Regions from separate parts of the Homo sapiens genome. Here region 2 is linked to region 1. Evidence: fine-mapped expression QTL. A gene starts in region 1. The other region holds a variant in brackets. All regions are shown on one strand. Distances are between the middles of the regions.

Region 1 (12,079 bases):
TATATGGTGACCTCTCCCTCCCACTCCTATTTCACAGCCATCTAGTTCCTCTCCCCCAAGGAAACCAATGTTACTCATCTATTGCATGTCCTTCCAGAGATATTTTACGACTATACCAACAAATATATAAATTTATATATATATAAATTTATCTTAAATGTAAACGCTGTTCTTCTCAGATTAAAGTGTCACTTAAACACAAAAAGGTGGCAGAAATTACATTTTAAAACTTTTTCTCAAAATAAAGAGTTTTGAAATTCACAGTTGAACTCTTTCATTCATAAACATTTAAAAGTTAAATTGTTTGCCTCCAGAAATTAAGTTGGGTTCCCAGCACACAGTGGATACTTTAAAAATGTTTCCTTAGGTCTTTTTGTCGTTCCTTATTCAGAGCCAAGAGGACAATTACTCACTTCCTCTATTGATATAGAGAAATCAAATTTTATTTTTTACTATTAAAAAAGAGAAGTCTTGAAAAATCTTTACTGGATTTACTTGTGTTCAAAGATTTGCTTGACAGTAGTAATCATTTCATTGTGTTTATCAAAACATCATGTTGTACATCTTAAATGCAGACAATTTTTTAAAAGATTTGCAAACTGAATTTTAAGATCAGTTTAAAATCCCCATCCCAATAGTCTTCAGTATACTATGAATAATTAGCTAATCACATGACATTAGAATTCAGATTAGGGGGACCTTGCAGTAGAAGACCAAACATACCTGAGAGAAAGAAGAAATGTTTTCTCACAATTACAGACAGTCCTTAAAATATTAATATTTGGCATAACCTGAGACATCACATATTGACAAACTAAATTTCTTTATACATTTAAAGAAACACTAATACTCAAAGATATAGAACAAAATTACACAGGAATGCTGAGATGATATTGCCTTTTCTGAACAGCCATCAGTTACACTAGATTTGTAACTTGATTGTTCACAAAATAAAACAGTACACTGTAGCACAACCAAATGGCTGAAAGATGGAGGTGAGTTTTAAAAGTACGTATCAGCAAAGGAAAATTCCACTGTTGTCTTTAAGCCTTAAGATAAAGGTGATTGAACTCCTCAGAACACGGAGTACTCTCCAGAAAATATATTTTCAAATCCCCATTTATTTTCCATCCCTTGAGCATGTGTTTACGAATCTGACAAATCTACCTCCTATTTCACATTGTCCTTTAAGAAACTGGGTCTAGGGCCTATTAAATAAAAATATTTTCACGGTTATCTATATAAAGGCAATTTTCATTTGCATCATGGCTTGGAGTCAATCACCTGCAATGACCACGTGCTTCAATTCCCCCCTGTCTGTCTTCTCAGGAAACCTCCCAGCTTACCTGCAGGCCTGGCATCAGTCATTTATCACCAACTGACACAAACCACAGAGCTCAACAACGGTCAGGGATGGAGGCCAAAGTCTGTGTTGAGACCTATAATTCGCAATCACCAAACTCGGTTTTAGACCTGGTCCTGTTTCAAGATCTGTGTAGGTCACTACTTCATCAAAACTGGAGGGCTCTTAACAGCGCTTGCCCCTTACACGGTTTGGCTGCGAGGGCCTGGTGGCCATGAGCCCCGGCTGTCAACAACTAATCAAGAAACATGAGAAGCAAGGCCCAGAACCAAGGGTAATTTTCACATTAAAGGTTAAGGTTTCTGCTTTCCATTCTCTATCAGGGCACCTGGATGGAAACTGAATAAAGAAATCCCTCAGTATATGTGATAAAATAAAATTTTCCCCGTTGGGAACAATCATGAAGTGGCTCGTCTATTTCGTGTGAGGATGCCAATTCAGGGGCTTTAACACCACTGAATTACATTCAAAAAGAGAATACCTGACTCCACTTTGGAGTCATGGGCAGGGCGAGGGGGGAGGCAGGGGGCACAGAAGAGGAAGAGGGATGACTCAGATTATGGCTGACATCCATGTAATAAAGGGAGATTTGTACTGACCACTGTGCATGTAACACACTGTGTACCATTAAATCTAGAAAAGGATGGTAGCATCAGCCCACCCCTAACAACAAAAGATGGCTGACTCCGGAATTAAAACCACGACTTTTCCCCTTCATACATTCGGAAATGTATCTCAAACTCACTCCCTGTTACCGTCTTAGGAATACAAAAGCTCCTCTTCGTTTGAGAAAGCAAGTAACTGGGTATAACTTTCCACTCGGGACATAAGAGCAGGAGGCGTGCCTGTCTCCTCGTCCAGGCCTGACATGGTGGTGCCACCCACTCTGGGTCCTGGACCACTGCTCACCTTTCACCACACTTCATGCTCTGACTTTATCATTAAGAGACCTGGGAATGTGGACCTCAGGAGTGGGTACCCACCCAGGCTGACCATGGATGTGGCGTCCAAGAGGCCCCACTAACCCATACCCAAGCAAAGACACTTTCAGACTTCGTCCCCACTCCCTACTGTGGCCTGTCCCCTGAGGTGATGCAGTCACCTGGGAAGCCACCCACCTCCAGCCACCACGCAGGCACACACACCCTATCGAGCTCAACTGGAGCGGGAGGTGGTGGGTAAGAGGTTTGCAACAGAGACCGAACGGGGCAGACGGAACCGGACCACCTCTGTCCCTTTCATTTTCCTGGGTTCCCAATGCAGAAACGTGGAATAGGGGTGGAATTGTTTTTAACGGTAGCAGAGAGCCAGAAAATGCAGACAGTTGACCTTGGGAACCAACACCGTCGCAGCGGGAAACGTAAAAGAAACGGAACACGTTGGCAAGTGAAGGGGGAGCACCGCGCGGCGCCAGGAGGAGCGCGGCGGCCGAGGGGTGTGGAGGGCGGGGGGTGTAACAGGGGTGCTCACCATAGATCATGGCCAGCCCGGTCTCGTGCAGAAAGCGCACCCGGCGGTGCTTGAAGAGCCAGATGGTGAGGATGGTGAGCGTGAGCAGCAGGATGAAGGTGAGCAGGCTCACGCTGTCTTGCCGGTGGCTCTCCTCCGCCTCCTTCTCAGTAGCGAGCTCCTCCATGGCGCTGCTGTCCTCCGCCGCCGCCCCAGAGGAGGAGGCCGAGGCCGCGGCCGCGACTCGCAGCCCCCAACCCAGCAGCAGCGGCAGCAGCAGCAGCCGCGGCGGCGGCGCCCCGGTAGCCCGACCCGAGCCAGGGCGCGCCGCGTCACCAGGCTCCATGGTCCCGGGGCCCCCCGCGCCTCCTCCGAGCGGGGACCAGCAGCCCGCGCCGTCGGCGGGTTCTGGCAGCACCGCGGACCTGCCGGAGTGGCCGTGGCCGCTGCAGCTCCTCCTCCTACTCGCGCCGGGCCGGGGCTGCGCCCGGGGCCGCGCGGGGGAGGGGCGCGCGCAGTGCGCAGGATCCCCAAGCACCGCCCCCCGCCCGCGCACCTGTTCGTCCCCCGGCCGCGCCACGCCGCACCGCCCCGCGGGCCAACCGAGCCACCCAGGCGGGGCCGGGTGTTGCCCTCGGGTCTGCGGGCCGGCCGCCGGCTGCTTGCCTCTCTGCGCTTCTCACCCCGTCCTGGCGCACCTGCCCAGGCAGTCTGGGGTCGTGGGGCCAGTTCATGGGCAGCCGCCGCCGCACTTCCGAAAGGGGACGCCAGAGGTCGCCGGCGCCTAGCGGGAGCATCGGCTTGGAGTGACTAGCCTTGCGGTCTCGAGTCCCGTCTCTGGCGCCACGGCGAAGTGTTTAATCTCAGGCCAGTGTGCAGCCGCCCTGGGCCCAGTAAAGTGGGGGCTGTCAGTGAACCGAGCAGCCCCGAAGCCACGTTAGCCCCTACACCTCTCTTTCCTCATCTCTCAGGTTGCCCTTCCAGCCCCAGAATCTGCTAGGTTTCATTCAAACCTCTGTTCTCATCAGACTCAAATGTGAGGACTGATAAGGAGTTGGAATCGGGGGAGGGCATTGAAGTATCTCCTTCCTCACTTGAGGGAATAGACTTCGTCTGCGCTGTGCTACTAATCCCCTTGGGGAATAGGGTTGAACCAGAAGGAACTGAACGCTTGCCATTCCTGGTAGATGAGCAGTAGCTGGTCCTAAGGTGGTGGTGGGGGGTGGGGGTTACCCTGATGACCCTTTCTTTTATGTTGCTCACCTGGTAGCTCAGAGAGTCTTTTAATGACTCTTAAGACCAAACCCAGCTCTGAACAAAATTATGGCGTGGACTCTGAAGGATGAAGCCTCTTGGAACAAATTCTCAGGAAAACTAGAATCTTCAATCCACCTTGCTCCTCTGGTCAAGGAAGAAACAAGATCAGATTAATCACTGAGTTCCCAGTGCTTAGCACTGTACTCATGTGTTTATTGAACCACTCTGAAATCTCTACCAAAACTGCCCATGTTTTCGCTCCCAGGGGAGTTTGCATTTTTAAGAGGATTCATTGAAGAAGGTGATGCTTAACCAAATGAAATAATAGGGTAGAGGTAGCATTAGGTAAGAAAACTCTTTGGAGTACTGCAGCCTTCCTGGTTCCCCTGTAGGTGAGCACTCTGCCAAAGCTGTTTAGTGGTTTCTTTAAAGCAGGGAAATCTCTTCATCTACATTTTAGCTAGCCCCTTTCCCAACTCCTCTAGGCAGTCACTCAGCCCCTGCAAACATCCGTATACCTTGAAGTTCCACACAGGTTTCCAATAAAATTGCAAATACTTAAAACCTGGATGGGCACTGTGTTGGTCATAATATTATGCCCCTTTGGGTGCCCAGTACTCAAGGACAGAATTTCTCTCTTTAGAAAAGGGCAACTCAGGAGCTACCTTAAAAGTACAGACTTCTTAGTATTTGTGGCGGATTGTATTTTTTAAAAAGATGGCCACAATCATATTTCCAATCCCAGAACCTTACCATCCCCCATCAAGAAGGGGCATCTATGTTCCCTCCCCTTGAACCTCAGTGGACCTTTGTGACTCCCTCAAAGAATATAATGTGGTAATGGAGATTATGTGATTTGTGAGGCTAGGTCATAAAAGGTAATCTAGCTCCTGCCTGTTTCATTCTGTCACTTTCCACTCTAGCTAGGCTGGGCACGGTGGCTCACGCCTGTAATCCCAGCACTTTGGGAGGCCAAGGCGGGCGGATCACCTGAGGTCAGGAGTTCAAGACCAGCCTGACCAACATGGCAAAACCCTGTCTCCACTAAAAATACAAAAATTAGCCGGGTGTGGTGGTGTGTGCCTGTAATCCCAGCTACTTGGGAGGTGGTGGCACGAGAATCACTTGAACCTGGGAGGCAGAGGTTGCAGTGAGCCAAGATTGCACCACTGCACTCCAGCCTGAGTGACAGAGTGAGACCCTGCCTCCAAAAACAAAAAAACAAACAAACAGACAAAGAAATCTAGCTACCTGGAAGCTGACATACTGAAGAAACCATGTAGAGAGACCATGTAGCAATAGAGGTAGATGCCACAGGAGACCCAACTTTTTGAGTGTTCCCAGCCCAAATGCCACACATGTGAATGAATGAGTCTTCAAATCAATTCATTCCCAGCCACCATCTTACTGTAGACATATGAGAGGCCCCAAGCAAGAACCATGTCGCTGAACCTAACCAACATCTGCAACTGTAGCATAATAAAATGATTGGTGTTATTTTAAGCTACTAAGTTTGAGGGTGGTTTCTTCCACAGCAATAGATAACCAGAAGAGTATTTATTATGTAAAGTAGTTCCCTTGGGTAGAGTATGAAAAGACTAGTCCCAACCATTCACAAATACACACCAAAGAAAACACTCCATTATCTCTACATATTTATGTGTGAAAACTAACCTATATAATACAGGAGTTCTGATTTCAGTTAACACAGAATAATCACACTAAACCCATTACCTGCTACTGAATACAGCTATAAAATGTGAACAGAATGCATGCAGCAACTATTTGAGGACTCTGGAAAGTAAATTGTACCACATAAACTGAGGAAAAACAACAGAATTTGAAGTAAAACTGAACTGGCGGTGAGTTTACCATTTTTTTCCTCCAGTCTCCACTAGACTGGACTCAAGGCAGCTTAACACCCGGAAGGGAGCATCAACATGGACAGAGAGAGCTCCAGGAAAAGCAGAAAATTGGTCTCCTAATATTCAGAGAAAGTAGGAGAAATGTGCCATTTTTTTTCTTTTCTCCATTCTCTTACATTTTAGCCAATAAGCAATCCCACTGTGGCACCTCAGTCAACAGTGACAATGGAGACAGCAATACCTTCAAGCACCCAAAAAATGCTAAGGGAGGGGAGAACCTTCCTCTCTGTTTGAAGTAGCTCTGGTCCCAAGACAGTGGGGCCAAAACCTCAATGATATATATTTTTTCACTCTCTCTGTCCTGATGCTTGGCCCAAGACATGGGCAAAGTTTCAGGAAATACATAACAGAGAGGATTAAATAAAGACCCAGATTTCTGGACAGGCACAGTGGCTCACCCCTGTAATCCCAACATTTTGGGAGGCTGAGGTGAGTGGATTTGTTGAGGCCAGGAGTTGGAGAACAGCCTGGGCAATGTAGCAAGACCCTGTCTCTATGAAACATTTAAAAATAAAATTAGCTGGGCACTGTAGTGCTTGCCTGTAGTCTTGGCTACTCAAGAGGCTAAGGTGGGAGGCTCACTTGAGCTCAGGAGTTCGAGGCTACAGTGAGCTATGATCACACCACTGTACTCCAGCCTGGGCGACAGAGCGAGACCCTGTCTTTAAATAAATTAAATAGTCTAGATTTCTTGCCAATTGATTAAAAGGGGAACTCCAAGGCATTACAAAGTACCAAGGAGACAGTAGAGAGGAGAGGACCTTGGGAAAGGTCCTCATAAAGTTTTTATGAACTCCTAGGTTCACCCCAACCTGCACATGGATCTGATCCTAAACAGCATACCAAAGACTGTGATAACTGAACTAAGAGGCAGACCACCACCCAAGCCCTAGACTAGCCACTGGATAAAACACATGTAGGACAGATCTGAATAGCATTACAAACTTTTGAAAACTGAATTGACTTTGGAGCCACTATCCACAAAAGGCATGTCAGAACTTGTGATCTAAACCCAAGCATGTCTATTACAAACTAAAACAAAAATATGAATATTTCCCCATAGTATTAAAACAAGATACAAAGTCCTATAACATAATATTCAAAATGTCCAGGATACAACCCAAAATTATTCAATACCTGAAGAACCATGAAAATCTTAACTTGGGTGGGAAAAGGCAAACAACAGACACCACTGCTGAGGTGACACCAATGTTGGAATTATCTGAAAAAGACTTTAAAGCAGCTATTATAATGATGCTCCAACAAGTAAGGACAAATAATCTTGAAATGAATGTAAGGATAAAAGGCTCAGCACAGGAGTAAAAGATAAAAGAAGAACCAAATTGAAATTTTAGGCTGGGCACAGTGGCTCACACCTGTAATCCCAGCACTTTGGGAAGCCAAAGCGGGTAGATCACAAGGTCAGGAGTTCCAGACCAGCCTGGCCAACATGGTGAAACCCCATCTCTACTAAAAATACAGAAATTCACTGGGCATGGTGGCATGTGCCTGTAATCCCAGCTACTGGGAGGCTGAGGCAGGAGAATAACTTGAACCTGGGAGGTGGAGTTTGCAGTGAACTGAGATCGCACCACTGCGCTCCAGCCTGGGTGACAGAGTGACACTCCATCTCAAAAAAAAAAAAAAAAATTTTATAAGTGAAGAATACAATAGCTGGAATTTTAAAATTGGATGGATGCAATAGCAGAATAGAGATGAAAGAGTCAGTAAATATGAAAATAGATCAATAGAAATTATCCAACCTGAATAGCAGAGAGGAAAAACTGAAAAATAAATAGAGCCACAAAGACCTATAGGAGATAATAAAATATCTAACATTTGTGTCTTTAGAGTTACAGAAGGAGAAGAGAAACAGTGTGGTACAGAAAAAAAGATGTGAAAATATAATAACTGAAAACATTCCAGATAAAGCAAAAGACACAAGCCTGCAGATTGAAGAACCTCAGCAAAACCCAAGCAGGATAAGCCCAAAGAATCAAAGCACAGACACATTATATTCAAACTGCTGAAAAGAAAAACAAAAAAATATGTTTAAAGCAGAAAGATAAAAATGAAATATTACATACAGGGTAACAACAATTCAGATGACTACGGATTTCTCATCAGAAACCAAGAAGGTCATAAAGACATGCACAGCATTTTTAATGTGCTGAAAGAACTGTTAACCAAAAATAATACATCCAACAAAAATAGATTTCCGTGTGAAGAAATAACACCAATACTGTACAGTCTCTTCTAGAGAGTCAGACAGTTGAAGAAAAGAAAGCTACATACCAATATCTCTCATGAACTTAGACATAAAAATTCTTAACAAAATATTAGTAAATTGAATCTAACAATGTATAAAAAGAAGTGTACACCATGACCAAGTGGTATTTATCCTAGGATTACAAGGCTTGTTCAACATGAGAAAATCACTCAATGCAATCCACCATATTTACTGTCTAAAGAAGAAAAGCTGCCTGATCATATTCACTGATGCGGAAAAAAGCACTGACAAAATTCAACATCCATTCATGATAGCTTTCAGCAAAATAGGAATAAAAGGGAACTTCTTTGACCTGATAAAGAGCAGATACCCGCCCCCCCCAAAAAAAAAAACCGCACAGAATATCTAGCATTATTCTTAAAAGACTGAATTCTTTCCCCCCAAGGTCGGGAAAAGGCAAGGAAGTCCACTATCACCACTCTTAGTCAACATTGTATTGGAACTCCAAGTCAGTGCACTAAGACAGAAAAACGAAATAAAAGGCATACGTATATAGCAAAAATCACAATATGTAAATTTTAATGGAATGCTGGGGAAACAGAGGAACTAAAAACAGAGGGAACAAAAAGAAAAGGGAGGAAAAAAGAGAAATTCTCAAAGGATATTAGAAAAATTCTCCTATTCATAGATAATATGATCATCTACTTAGAAAAATCCCATGAAATCTACAAAATCCTAGAACCAAATAAGCGAGTTTAGCAAGGTCTCAAGGTGCAAGGTCAGCACACAAAAACCAATCATATTTCTATATACAGGCTATGTGCAACTGGAGATTTTTTTTTTTTTTTGGTGGAGTCTGGCTCTGTCACCTAGGCTGCAGTGCAGTGGTGCGATCTCGGTTCACTGCAACCTCCGCCTCCAGGGTTCAAGTGATTCTCCTGCCTCAGCCTCCCAAGCTGGGATTACAGGCACCCACCACCACACCTGGCTAATTTTTGTATTTTTAGTAGAGACAAGGTTTTGCTGTGCTGGCCAAGCTGATCTCGAACTCCTGACCTCACCTGATCCGCCTGCCTCGGCCTCCCAAAGTGCTGGGTTTATAGGTGTAAGCCACTGCACCTGGCCAAAAAATCTTTAAAATGTATCATTCACAATAGCATAAAAGAAAAATATTTAGGTATAAATTTTTAACAAAACATGTCCAGGATCTATATGCTAAAATCTATAAAATGTTGATGAAAGAAATCAAAGAAGACCTGAATAAATGAAGAGACATGCCATGTTCATGGATTGAAAGACTAAGCAAAGATGTCAAATCTCTCCAAATTGATATACAGATTTAATAAAATTTCCATAAAAATCCCAGCAAAATGTTTGGTGAATATAGCCATGTGAAATATAAAATTAATAGGAAAGTCAAAGTAACAGACTAGCCAAAACAATTTTGAAAAAGAAGAATAAAATTGGAGGCCTCACACTATCCAATTTAAGATGTACTGTAATGCTACTATGTAAAGTAATAAAGTATAATTAAGGCAGGGTAGCATTGGTGAAGGAATAGATATATACATCAATGGGACAAAATTAGAGTCCAGAAATAGGTCTACATACAAAATTGATTTTTCACAAAAGTGCAAAAGCAATTAAATGGACAAGGTACGTTCTTTTCAATGAATTGTTTGGAATTATTGGGCATCCATACACAAAAAGAATGAACCTTGAGCTAAATCTTATACCTTGTACAAAAATGAATTTTATGTAGATTATAGATTTAAATGTAACATACAAAACTGTGAAACAGTTACAAAAAAACATAAGAACACCTTCCTGATCTTGGATTAAGCAAAGAGTGCCTAGATATGACACCAAAAGCACAATCCTTATATGAAAAAATTGATAATTGGACTGCATCAAAATTAAAAGTTTTTGCTCTGCAAAAGACACTTTTAAAGTAATGAAAAGACAAGCTACAGAGTGGGAGAAAATATTTACAAAACATATTCAACAAAGGACTTATATCCATAGTACATAAGAAATTCTCCAAACTTAATAAGAAAACAACCCAGTTGAAAAATGGGCAGAAGGTTTAAACTAACACTTTACAAAAGACGGTATGTGGATGAGAAATCATTACATGAAGAGATGTTTAACACCATTAGCCATTAGGGAAATAAAAATTAATACCATGATTGCCACCTATTAGATTGACTTAGAATATTAGAAATAGAATGACTAAATAAAAAATACTGACAACACCAATTGGAGATGAGAACGAAGAGCCCCTGGAACTCTCTTACATTGCTGGTGGGAATGCAAAATGGTAAACCACACTGGAAGAGAGTTTGGCAGTTTCTTATAAAGTTAACATGCATTTATCCATAAGAACAAGCAATCTCACTCCTAGGTATATATGTATATATCCAAGGGAAGTGAAAATGTGTTCATCCAAAAACCTGCACATGGATTTTTTTGTTGTTGTTTTGAGACAGAGTCTCGCTCTGTCACCCAGGCTGGAGTGCAGTGGCACAATCTTGGCTCACTGCACCTTCCGCCTCCCAGGTTCAAGCAATTCTTATGCCTCAGCCTCCCAAGTACCTGGAATTATAGGCATGTGCTACCATGCCCAGCTAATTTTTGTATTTTTAGTAGAGACAGGGTTTCACCATGTTGGCCAGGCTGATCTTGAACTCCCGACCTCAAGTGATCCACCCGCCTCGGCTTCCCAAAGTGCTGGGATTACAGGTGTGAGTCACTGCGCCCAGCTTTTTACATGGATGTTATTAGCAGCTTTATTTATAATAGCCAAAAACTGAAAACAACCCAAATGTCCTTCAGTGGGTGAATGAATAAAAAACTGTTGTATGTTCATACAATGGAATACCATTCAGCAATAAAAATGAATGAACAATTGATATACTAATAATTTGGATGAATATCAAAGGCATTATGCTGAGTGGAAGTGAGTCTCAAAAGGTTGCACACTATATTATTCCATTTTATGACATTCTTGAAATGATAAAAGTATAGTTACAGAGAATGGATCAGTAGTGTCTGGGGCTAAGTGGGAGGGGAAGCGTATAACTATAAAGGGATAACACAAGGGAGGTTTGGGGATGATGGAACCATTCTATATTCTGATTGTAGTGATGGTCGTATGAATCTGTACATGTGTTAAATTCAAATAATTGTACAAGAAAAATAAATATTGCTGTAAGTTAACTTAAATAATTTCTCTCTGTCATGTGTTAACAAATCCTCTGCTTACCCTTGGACATGCTACAACTTTATATTAGTTTAAGACGGTGGTTAAGGCCTCAAGAAGTCCCCAAGAGCTATGTCCTGGGTTCAGTTACCCTGAAATGTGGCAGATGAGGAAAACTGAAACCTTAAATTCAGGCACACCCACAGGATACTATGAAATATATGGGCATAAACACTAGCATTGGCGGGGCGTGGTGGCTCACGCCTGTAATCCCAACACTTTGGGAGGCCGAGGCGAACGGATCACTTGAGGTCAGGAGTTTGAGACCAGCCTGGCCTACATGGTGAAACCTCATCTCTACTAAAAATAGGAAAATTAGCCGGGTGTGTTGGCGGCATCTGTATTCTCAGCTACTCAGGAGGCTGAGGGAGGAGAATCACTTGAACTCAGGAGGCAGAGGTTGCAGTGAGCCAAGGTTGCGCCACTGTACTCCAGCCTTGGTGACAGAGGGAGACTCAGTCTCAAGGAAAAAAAAAAAAAAAGAACCAGGAAGGAAGCTTCTCCCCTCTGGCTGCCTTCCACTCTCCCACAAGTGCCTCCCATTGGCAGCACCTCAGCAGCAGCAACCAGGCATCCTAAGAGGACCTCATATC
Region 2 (12,079 bases), 22 kb after region 1:
GTTTCAGTTTACACATCACTGTCACAAAGAGACCTTTCCTGTCGACCCTATCTCAATGCGCCTCTTCCCCTGCCAGTTACTACTACAGCGCTCTCTTTAATTCTTTCTCAGCAGTGTTCACAATCTGCTGCTATCTTGGTTTGGCTTATTTGTGTGTTTGTGTCTCTCCCATTACATTAACATTAAGCTTTGAGATCAGAAATATTATCTGTCTTGTTTACCCCACAAAGAGCTTGGCAGATTCTAGCGGCTTGTGAAAGGAAAATAAAAACGCAGGACACCAATTCACTGCCAAAAGGAAAAAATGAAGCTGAAAGCTGAGTCATGCCAGAAGCTGCCTTTCCCTTTGTTCCTAAGCTGATAGCTACAGATAAAAGGTTAAATATCTCTGCAGGTAGCTACTCTGTGTTCACCTTATCTTATGTACAGTGATTTACTGAGTGAGAGACGAATACATAATTGACTCTTCCCCTACCTGCTCCTTTTCTCTTGCAACATGTGAATATCATACCCTCCTCCCTCTTTCCCCTCCAGCCTGCTTTTCCCCTTTAAAAACTGAAGCCCTCAAAATCATCTTTGGAGAAAGGCACAGACCACAGACTGTTTCTGTGATTCTCTGTTTCCTCTCCTCCGGGCATGTCCTTAACCTTGGTAAAATAAACTTCTAAATGGATTGAGACCTGTCTCAGATACTATTTGGTTTACATGCTCAATATATATTTTTTAAATGAAAACATTGTTATCTCCATGGCTAGAGAGTAAATATAGATGATGTTCTTCCTTAGGCACTCTTCTTTTTAATCTGCTTTAATATGAATTTAGAAATGTGGCCAGGCATGGTGGCTCACACCTATAAGCCCAGTACTTTAGGAGGCCAAGACAGGAGGATCGCTTGAGCCCAAGAGTTCAAGACCAGCCTGGCCAATGTGGCAAAGCCACGTCTCTACAAAAAATACAAAAATTAGCTGGGCGTGGTGGTGCGCGCCTGTAGTCCCAGCTTCTTGGGTAGCCAACACAGGAGGATAGCTTGAGCCCAGGAAGTCGAGGTGGCAGTGAGCTGAGATGGTGCCACTGCAATCCAGCCTGGAGATCGTGACAGTGAGACCAGGCACGGGGGCTCACGCCTGTAATCTAGACGGCAGACCTTTTAAAGAAATTAGTAAAATTATTTTAAAGAAGCTGTGGCATAATGGTTAAGAGCACAAGCTTTAAAGCCAGACTGCTTGGGTTTAAGCCTGGGCTCTACCATGAACTGTCTGTATGACCCTAGATACATTATTTACTTTCTTTGTGCCTCACTGTCTTCATATGTAAAATGGGGATAATAGTACCTATCTCACTATCTAATGAAGGCTAAATGACTTAACATACATAAAGGACATAATAGACATTCAGTATATATTTACTACATTAGTAGATCACTTCAGTGTTTAAACACATCTTTAATATCAAAATCTTCCCTATATGTTAAAGCAGTGTTCTTGAAATATACTACAGGCTATCAGCAGAATACCCTGCTTTGCTTTGCTTTCCTTCCTTCCTTCCTTCCTTCCTTTCTTCCTTCCTTCCTTCCTTTCCTTCCTTTCTTCCTTCCTTTCCTTCCTTCCTTCCTTTGAGACAGAGTCTCACTCTATCGCCCAGACTGGAGTACAGTGGCATGATCTCGGCTCAGTGTAGCCTCCGCCTCCCGGGTTTAAGCGATTCTCCTGCCTCAGCCTCCTGAGTAGCTGGGATTACAGGCATGCACCAACACAGCGGGCTAATTTTTGTATTTTTAGTAGAAACAGGGTTTCACCATGTTGATCATGCTGGTCCCGAACTCCTGACCTCAGGTGATTAACCCGCCTCAACCTCGCAAAGTGCTGGGATTATAGGTGTGAGCCACCTTGCCCAGCCTACACTAATTTTCTTAATACTCCTGTAGGTCCAGCGTTTTCAGTGGATAACTGCAAATGTCCATTTCTTTCGAGAAACAAACCTTCTTGGCAGTTTTGAGAGAACTTGATAGCTCAAGTCTCATTGTCAAATCACAGTGGGAATTTGGCTATGAAAACAATTACTGTATTAGTTTGAACTTTTGTGGCTTCAAGTGCCAGGAAACTCAGCTCAAACTTGTTTAGCATCATATAATAATAATGATAATAATCCTTCGTAACAGCACTAGACACAGAGATGCACCACCCGGATCCCCCTCAAGGGAAGGACTTGCTGCACAGCTGCAGGGACTGCAGTCGCCAGATAGCTCCAGCTCCAGTTTGTCAGTTTCTTCTGGGGCTGCCTCTGGTGGGGAGAGCCATCTCCCTTGAAGTCATACCCTCTCTATACAACCCACATCCAATGACTGTGTGAGGCAGAGCTGTAAACACCCACCTTGAGACAACTCTGACTGAAAATACTTCCAGAGCTCCCTGCTGGACTGGCTAAGGCTTCATCAGACCTGCTTCAGCATCGTTCGGCATCGCTCAGCATCGCTCGGCCCAATCCTGTGTCATCCTTCTTTCACAGGTATTATCCCTTCCTTATAAACACTTTGCATCCCGAACTCCATCTCAGTGTCAGCCTCTGAGGGACCCAGCCTGCCACAGTAACTGTTTAGTCAGGGTTTTCCAGAGGGACAGAGCCAATAGGACATATGTATATATGAAAGGGACTTTACTAAGGAGAACTGGCTCACGCGATCACAAGGCAAAGTCCCATGACAGGCCGTCTGCAAGCTGAGGAAAGAGAGAAGCCGGTAGTGGCTCAGTCGGAGTCCAAAAACCTCAAAACCAGGGAAGCCGACAGTGCAGCCCCCAGTCGGAGGCTGAAGGGCCTGAGAGTCCCCGGTAAGCCACTGGTCCAAGTCCCAGAGTCCAAAGGCCAAAGAACCTGGAGTCTGATGTCCAAGGGCAGGAGGAGCAGAAGGAAGCATCCAGCACAGGAAAAAGAAGGAAGCCAGAAGACTCAGCAAGCCAGCTTATCCCACCTTCTTCCACCTGCTTCGTTCTAGCTGTGCTAGCAGCCAATGGAATGGTGTCCACCCACATTGAGGATAGGTCTTCCTTTCCCAGCCCACTGACTCAAATGTCAATTTCCTCTGGCAACAGCCTCACAGACACACCCAGAAACAATACCAGCTATGTAGCTACCCTTCTATCCAATCAAGTTGACACCTAATATTAACCATCACGGTAACTTAGCTGGCCATTGGTAAATTTGGCTTTGGCCATGGTTGCACATGGGAATACAGAGCTCAAAAATATACAATCAAGCCCTGTCTTCCGTCTCTCAGTACAACTCTGCTCTCATCTGTCTGTTGACCCATTCATAAGAGGCCACCTCATGGCTGGAAGGTGGCTGCCAGGAACTCCTGGGATGATATCCTTCCATTTCACACCCAGCAAAAAGGAGCAAGCATCTTTATCCCAGCATCCCCAGAATTCTTGAAGTTCACAGTAACAGGGCTAGCATGGGTCAAGTGCCCAACTCTGAACCAATCACTGTGGCTGGGAGAAGGTGATGCTGATTTTCTTCAGGTGTAGGTCATATGCTTCACACTGAGAGTGTGAGGGTGGGAGAGGAATAATTTGCCAAATGAAAGCTCGGAGGTGTGGTCAGCAGTGGGTGAAAATCTTTTTGCTCAGAAATGTCCCCCACAATCACTCCTTGAGTCAGTTTTAACCTTATTCCGATTAAAAGTCTAAACTTCGGTAAAGGTAAAGGATATAGGTAAAATGGATTCTGGAATGAGACTGGGAATATCTCATTGAATGCTATTCAAAAATCATTTCTGGAATACCTGCTGTGTGTAGAGCATAATACAAGGTATTGTTAGAAGATAGAGAGTCTCTACCCTCAAGATATTTAAAGTCTGATTGAATATATACTCATTCTGCACTTGCAGAATAACATCAACACGTTTAAAGTGAGAGTAGGCCAGGCGTGGTGTCATGTGCCTGCAGTCCCAGCACTTTAGAAGGCCAAGGCTGGAGGATTGCTTGAGCCAGGAGTTCAAGACCAGACTGCAACACAGTGAGATCCTATCTTTATAAAAGACAAAAATTTAGCTGAGTATGGTGGCTCGTACCTGTGGTCCCAGCTACTTGAAAGACTGATGTGGGAGGATCACTTGAGCTTGGGAGGTCAAGGATCCCAGCGAGTCATGATCATGCCACTGCTCTCCAGCCTGGGTGACAGAGTGAGACCCTGTCTCAAAAGAAAAGTGAGAGTAGACGTTCTGAGAATCTCACACATGTGGGATGGGGCAGGAAAACAAAAATGTCTGCTGATTGGCTAGAGCAGCCATCTCGAAGCCCACAAATCTGACTCTGGTCATGTGAGCTTCAGGCTTTCCTGCAGAGCCTGTCCATTGTTACCTTTACTTACAGTTGAATGATCATGGTAAACTTGTTCCCTCAGCTCACAATTTAGAAGTCACAGATTATAGAAGCGAGGAGGTAGCAGGCCAAGTGACCCTAGAGGCAGTGAGAAGGGATGACTAACTGGTTAAAAGAGAGAGAGGAGACAGAACCATTTAGGTAAGATGTAAGAGATTGCAACTAAATTGAATAAATAAGCTATAGAGAAAAAACAGGCTCACATAAGTCTTTTAAAAGAGTGAAAGAAAATGCACCAAAATGTTTCTAGGCCTAAAAGAGCAATTTTCCTTCACCCTTTTTATGACTTTCCAAATTTCCTATAAGGACATAATACTTTTTTTTTTTTTTTTTTTTTTGAGACAGGGTCTTACTTTGTCACCCAGGCTGGAGTGCACAAATGTGGCTCATTGCAGTCTTGGCCTCCTGAGCTCAAGCGGTCTTCTCGCCTCAGCCCCCCAAGTAGCTGGAACTACAGGCGCATGCCACCATGCCTGGCTAAATTTTTGGATTTGTTTTTGTGTTTTTGTTGTTGTTGTTGTTTGTAGGGACGGGGGTTTCCTCATGTTGCCCAGGCTGGTCTCAAACTCCTGACCTCAAGCCATCTGCCCGCCTCAGCCTCCAAAAGTGCTGGGATTACAAGCATGAGTCACCACACCTAACCCATAATACTTTTATATAAGGGGGAAAACAAGTGTTATATTAAAACCATAGCTGTTAGAACTAGTATAAAGCACTCCAGGGTGGGCCATAGGGCAAATTGTCCCACATATCTTGGTGCCCATGGAACTATGGCATACCAAAGAAAGGCTAAATTATATTTATTATCCATCTTAAAAGAAGGCAATAATTTTACAATCTATTTCAAGATTTTTTTCTATTAAAAGGGTTAAATTTTAAAGAAAAAAATTGTCATTAAAAGGAGTAACTTGAGTTCCACGGACAATTCCCTTATGTACAGCAATTCCTACCCCAGAAAGCTCATTTACTTGGGTAAATAAGACATTACTAAGTCCAGGCGCAGTGGCTCATGCCTGTAATCCCAGCACTTCGGGAGGCCGAGGCGGGTGGATCACCTGAGGTTGGGAGTTCGAGACCAGCCTGACCAACATGGAGAAATCTCATCTCTACTAAAAATACAAACTTAGCCAGGTGTGATGGCGCATGCCTGTAATCCCAGCTACTCGGGAGGCTGAAGCAGGAGAATCGCTTGAATCCGGGAGGCAGAGGTTGCAGTGAGGCAAGATTGCACCATTGCACTCTAGCCTGGGCAACAAGAACGAAACTCCATCTCAAAAAAAAAAAAAAAAAAAGACACATTGCTGGAGCACATAGGAGGAACATAGTGAAGGAACAACCCTCACAAGATGTCATTCATCCTTGGCCTTGAGAGTGGACATCAGCATGGGGGTGGGGCTGATGGGGACTGCAGCATACAGGGGACTCGAGGAAAGGCTAGAGCACCGTGGAGTAGTGCTGGGCAGGGTTGGAGATGTCTGCGTGCAACAGCTGCAGCCAAACCCAAGACAAGTAGATCTTCATTTCTTTTTTATTATTTAAAAAAATTTTAAAAATATGTATAGATTTGGGGGCATAAGTGCAGTTTCATTACATGAATATGTTGCGTAGTGGTGAAGTCTGGGCATCTAGTGTAGCCGTCACCCGAATAGTGCACATGCATCCATTAATTTCTCATCCCTCACCCGCCTCTCACATCCCACCCCTCCGAGTCTCCAGTGTCTGGTATTCCTCTGAGCTGTCTCCCCACAGCCCCAATACACGTACACTCTCACATTCTCAAACACATGAAGGGCACAGGCCTGGAGAAGAAAGGTAAGTCCAAGCCTGGCCCACAAGAGTCAAGTAAGTGTCTGAATAGTCTTACTGGTGATCTAAAAATAGTGATTGAGATAATGCTTATAAAGCTTGCTGGTTACTTTAAAATGTTAGCACCTTTAACACCTTAAGCAAAGCCTGGAAGCACATATAAAGGAAAGTATATTTATGGAAATACCTGATAAGGCAGAATAAGGCCTTTGTGCCAT[A/C]ATCTATCTTTATAAAAAGTAGAACTATTTTGTTAACAGAAATGTATTGTAAAAAAATTCTATATTTGCCATGTTTGGCCTTGGTCAGGCCCCTTGATTTAAATGGTATCCTTCCCTTAAGGCTGGGCATGGTGGCACATGCCTGCAATCCCAGCTCTTTGGGAGGCTGAGGTGGGAGAATCACTTCTGCAATCACCAACCACAGGCCAGAATTTCAAGGCTGCAGTGAGCTATGATTGCATCACTGCACTCCAGCCTGGGCAACAGAGTGAGACCTCATCTCTAAAAAAAAAATTAATTAATTAATTAGAAATAGATGGCCAGGCATGGTGGCTCACCCCTGTAATCCCAGCACTTTGGGAGGCCAAGGCAAGTGAATCATTTGAGCCCAGGAGTTTGAGACCAGCCTGGGCAACATGGCAAAATCCCTTCTATACAAAAAAATTAGCTGGGCTTGGTCCCAGCTACTCAGGAGGCTTTGAGCCCAGGAGGTCCAGGCTGCAGTGATCTGTGATCATGCCACTGCACTCTAGGCTGGGCAACAAAGTGAGACCCTGTCTCAAAAAAGAAAAAAATAGATGGTACACAATTTCTTTTTTTGAAGGAGATGAATATATATCACTTAATCATAACAGGTAGCATTATTAAGCTTCAATATGTGCTTTTCATGTATTTGCTCATTTTGAAACGTTTCAATTCAGTTACATGGGAGAAATAAGTTCAAGAGATCTACTGTGCAGCATGGTGACTATAGTTAATAAGAAGATATTGTATTCTTGAAAATTGCTAAGAGAGTGGATGTTAAGTGTTCTCACCATAAAAATGATAACTATGTGAGGTGATACATGTTTTAATTAGCTAGATTTGGTCATTCCACAATGCGTATATACTTTGAAACATCATGGTGTACATGACAAACACATATCATTTTATCTATCAATTTAAAAAGTTGTTTAAATGTTTTAATAAAACAACAAAAATATGATACAAAGACATTTCCTTGTGAAGTACACACAAATACAAATTATAGGCACATTTTGCCAAATGGTTAGAAAGTAAACATCTGTAGCCACACAAAAACCTGCTCATAGATGTTTATAGCAGCTTTATTCATAATTGCCAAAACTTGGAAACAACCAAGATGTCCTTCAGTAGGTAAATGGATAAATAAACTATGGTATATCCAGGGAACAGAATATTATTCAGCAATAAAGAGAAAGGAACTATCAAGCCACCAAAAAACAAGAAATCTTAAATGTATATTACTAAGTGAAAGAAGCCAATCTGAAAAGGCTACATATGGCCCGGGGCGGTGGCTCACACCTGTAATCCCAGCACTTTGGGAGGCCGAGGCGAGTGAATCACCTGAGGCCGGGAGCTCGAGACCAGCCTGACCAACATGGAGAAACCCTGTCTCTACTAAAAATACAAAATTAGCTGGGCATGGTGGCGCATGCCTGTAATCTCAACTACTCGGGAGGCTGAGGCAGGAGAATCCCTTGCACCGGGCAGGTGGAGGTTGCGGTGAGCTGAGATCACACCATTGCACTCTAGCCTGGGCAACAAGAGCGAAACTTCGTCTTAAAAAATAAAAAGGAAAAGGCTACGTACTATATGATTCCAACTATATGACATTCTGGAAAACTATGGGTTAGGAGAGAGGGAGGGATGAATAGATGGAGCACAGAGGATTTTTAGGGCAGTGAAACTACGCTGTAAGATACTACAATGGTGGATACATGTTGTTATACATTTTTCCAAACCCATTCAATGTACACCAAGGGTGAACTCTAATGTACACTGTGGACTTTGGGTGATAATGATGTGTCAATGGAGGTTCATCAGTTGGAACAAATGTACCACTCTGGTGGGGAAGGCTGATAGTGGGAGCTGTTAGAGTGGGGTGGGAGCTGTTAGAGTGGGGTGGGATCAGGGAGCATCTGGGAACTCTGTATTTCCACTTAATTTTGCTGTGAGGCCAGGCTTGGTGGCTCATGCCTGTGATCCCAGCACTTTGGGAGGCCGAGGTGGGAGGATCGCTTGACCTCAAGAGTTTGAGACCAGCCTGGGCTACATAGTGAGACCTCATCTCTATCATATATATATATTTAAAATTTTTGCTGTGAACCTAAGCATTCAGACTTTCACCATTAAGTATGATGTTATCTATAGGGTTTTTGCTTGTTTGTTTGTGCATGCCTTTTTCAGATTGTGCAAATTCCCTTATCTTCCTAGTTTGCTGAGAGTTTGTTTGTTTGTTTCCCCTTGCCCCACCCCCCGCTGCCCTGCGAGATGGACTTTCACTCTGTCACCCAGGTTGGAGTGCAGTGGCATGATCACAGTTCACTGCAACCTCCACCTCCCAGGTTCAAGCGATTCTCCTGCCCCAGCCTCCCGAGTAGCTGGGATTACAGGTACATGCCACCACGCCTGGCTAAATTTTTGTATTTTTAGTAGAGACGGGGTTTCACCATGTTGGCCAAGCTGGTCTCGAATTCCTGACCTCATGATTCGCCCTCCTCGGCCTCCCAAATTGCTGGGATTACAGGCGTGAGCCACTGTGCCTGGCCTACCGAGAGTTTTTTTTTTTTTTAATAAATTGATGTTGAATTTGTCAAATGCTTTTTCTCCATCAATTGATGTGGTCATGTGGTTTTTATTCTTTTTTAATATAGTGGAATCCGTTGATTGAATTTTTTGTTTGTTTTGTTTTGTTTTTGAGACAGAGTCTCACTCCGTCACCCAGGCTGGAGTGCAATGGTGCGATCTTGGCTCACTGCAACCTCCGCCCCCTGGGTTCAAGCGATTCTCCAGCCTCTGCCTCCTGAGTAGCTGAGATTACAGGCACCCGCCATCATACCTGGCTAGTTTTTGTATTTTTGTAGATGGGGTTTCATCATATTTGCCAAGCTGGTCTTGAACTCCTGACCTCAGGTGATCCACCCGCCTCGGCCTCCCAAAGTGCTGGGATTACATGCATCAGCCACCACACCCGGCCTTGCTGATTAATTTTGAGTATTGAACCAGTCTTGCATTCCAAGAATAAATGCCATGTGATCATTATATACTATTCGGCATGTTGTCTACAAAGAGGGACAGTACTGGAAGTCCTAGCCACTATACTAGGCACAAAAAAAGGACACAGGTTAGAAAGAAAAGAAGAGACTTTTCCCTGTATGAAGACAACATGATGTTTATCTACATAGAAAATCCCAAAGAATCCACAAAATGACATGAAACTAATAAGTGAGTTTAACAAGGTCACTGAATACAAGGCCAACATACAGAGATCAATTCTATTTTTTATACATTAGTAACAAATAATTACAAATAGAAGTTAAAACGATATCATTTATATTATCTCCAAAAATGAAATACTTAGGTATAAATCTAAGAAAACACATATAGAATATGTATGCTGGATAACTATTGAAAAACAGGGGTGGAAAGGATAGCAATGGAGATGGAGTGTGGGCAGAGGGCAGAACCATTTGCTTCACTCTAGGGAAGCACGCTTTACCCTGCATAACCCATGAATACTACTCTGACACTCTGACACTGCTTTTGCTTACCTATTCTTCATCTCTGTGCACATCCTCAGAATGTACACAGTCTTGACTGTTATCTATTTCTGCAATATTGCTGCATATCAAATTACACCAAAATTCAGTGGCTTATAACCATAAGCATGTATTTAGCTCACAAATATGTGGCTCAACAATTTAGACTGAACTCAAATCGGGGAATATCTCTGGTCTTCACTAGGATCACTCTATTGTCTCGGGGTTGGCTAGCTGTCAACTTATCTCAGATGGCGTTGGCTGCTACTGGGGTCACTTGACTGTTCCATATATTTTTCATATATTCACCACATATATTTCATCCTCTGGCAGGCTAGCCTGAGCATGTTCTCATGGTGAGGGCGGAAGAGGAAGAGCAGAAGTGTATACCTGTAAGTGCTTTTTAAAACCTCTGCATGGCGGGGCATGGTGGCTCACGCCTGTAATCCCTGCACTTTGGGAGGCTGAGGCGGGCTGATCACCTGAGGTCAGGAGTTCGAGACCAGCCTGGCCAACATGGCAAAACCCTACTAAAAATACAAAAATTAGCTGGGCATGGTGGCACGCACCTGTAATCCCAGCTACTGGGGAGGCTGAGGCAGGAGAACCGCTTGAACCCAGGAGGCGAAGGTTGTAGTGAACCGAGATCGCACCACAGCACTCCAGCCTGAGTGACACAGCAAGTCTCTGACTCAAAAAAAACCAAAAAACAAACAAACAAAAAACACCTCTGCATGCATCACATCTGCTAACATCCCATTGTCCAAAGAAAGTTACATGGCTAGCCTCAGAATCAAGGGGCACAGAAATATACTCTGTCTCTTCGATCAAAGGAGTTTCAAAGTTACGTGTCAAAGGTACAGATACAGGAGGAGGAGTGAATAATTGGGAACATTAATGCAACCAGTCTACTAAAATCATGGTGCGAGGCTCTAATCTTTGGCACCCTCCCTGGCCGCAATGCATTTTGTGACCTCAGTCTTCATTCTTGCACATCACTTTGATATCATCATTACTCTCCCAGCACATCCTTTCAGGATTAGCTCTAGGGCTGGTCTAAGACACAGATAGATGAATGGGCCACTGATTTGCATTCCAATCTCACAGCTCTAAGCTCTGAAAAGCATCTGGCCCAGGCTAGGCTGGTTTAGTTGAGCCGTGGGTGGGAAATAAGGGCTGTGCTCATGCCTAAGGGTCTGAACTGTTCTCTGTCGCCAAATTGCTGAGCTTTCAAAAGCTGGATGTGACCTTACCTCACTCAGACTTGTTATTTACAGCTGTGTTTCCACTAGTGAGGTCGTTTTGGGGATCTGGAGTCAAAAACCTTCCTCTGTCACTGGAAAATATTTACTGATTTCTAGCTGTGTATCTGACCATGCTAACTTCTTCTTTTTTTCTTTTTTCTTTTTCTTTTCTTCTTTCTTTTTGATGGAGTTTCGCTCTTGTCACCCAGGCTGGAGTACAGTGGTGTGATCTCAACTCACTTCAACCTCTACCTCCAGGGTTCAAGCAATTCTCCTGCCTCAGTCTCCCGAGTAGCTGGGATTACAGGTGCCCACCACCATGCCCAGCTAATTTTTTGTATTTTTAGTAGAGACAGGGTTTCGCCATGTTGGGCAGGCTGGTCTTGAACTCCTGACCTCAGGTGATCTGCCCACCTCAGCCTCCCAAAGTGCTGGAATTACAGGCGTGAGCCACCTTGCCCAGCCTGCTAACTTCTTTTTATATGCTTTAGATCAGTCATCATCTGTATGTTCTCTCTTTCCATCTGAACCAAATTCTTGACTTTCCTCAATCCTATGGCTATGTGATTCCTAAAGTGTCTAAAACAGGCTGGGCACAGTGGTTCACGCCTATAATCTCAACACTTTGGGAGGCCGAGGCAGGTGGATCACTTGAGGTCAGGAGTTTGAGACCAGCCTGGGCAACATTGTGAAACCCCATCTCTACTAAAAATACAAAAAATTAACCGGGTGTGGTGGTGGGCGCCTATACTCCCAGACACTCGAGATGCTGAGGGTAGAAGGATCACCTCAGCCAGGGAGGTCAAGGCTGCAGTGAGCCATGGTCATGCCACTGCACTCCAGCCTGGGCGTTAGGAGTAAGACCATGTCTCAAA

Alleles and levels. Alleles are on the strand shown, and positions count from the first base shown. SD is a standard deviation of normalised expression in the study named.
For the expression in stomach of the gene that starts at base 3,247 in region 1, A is the high allele of the variant in region 2 and C is the other (small effect, 0.22 SD a copy in GTEx).

Evidence for each region. PIP is the estimated chance that this variant, and not a neighbour inherited with it, causes the effect.
Region 2: its variant is fine-mapped to the expression of SLC9A7 in stomach (GTEx, PIP 0.97).

Annotation. Positions count from the first base shown.
Region 1 is chrX:46,755,872-46,767,950 of GRCh38, forward strand. It overlaps SLC9A7 (solute carrier family 9 member A7), which reads right to left and starts at 3,247. Exons shown (of 17, transcript NM_001257291.2): 1 at 2,834-3,247. The coding sequence starts at 3,158. RefSeq lists silencers at 3,019-3,158, 3,179-3,528.
Region 2 is chrX:46,778,009-46,790,087 of GRCh38, forward strand. No RefSeq gene overlaps it. Among named protein-coding and RNA genes, the nearest start is that of SLC9A7, 25 kb to the left of the region's middle. The variant A/C (reference allele first, on the strand shown) is at 6,401.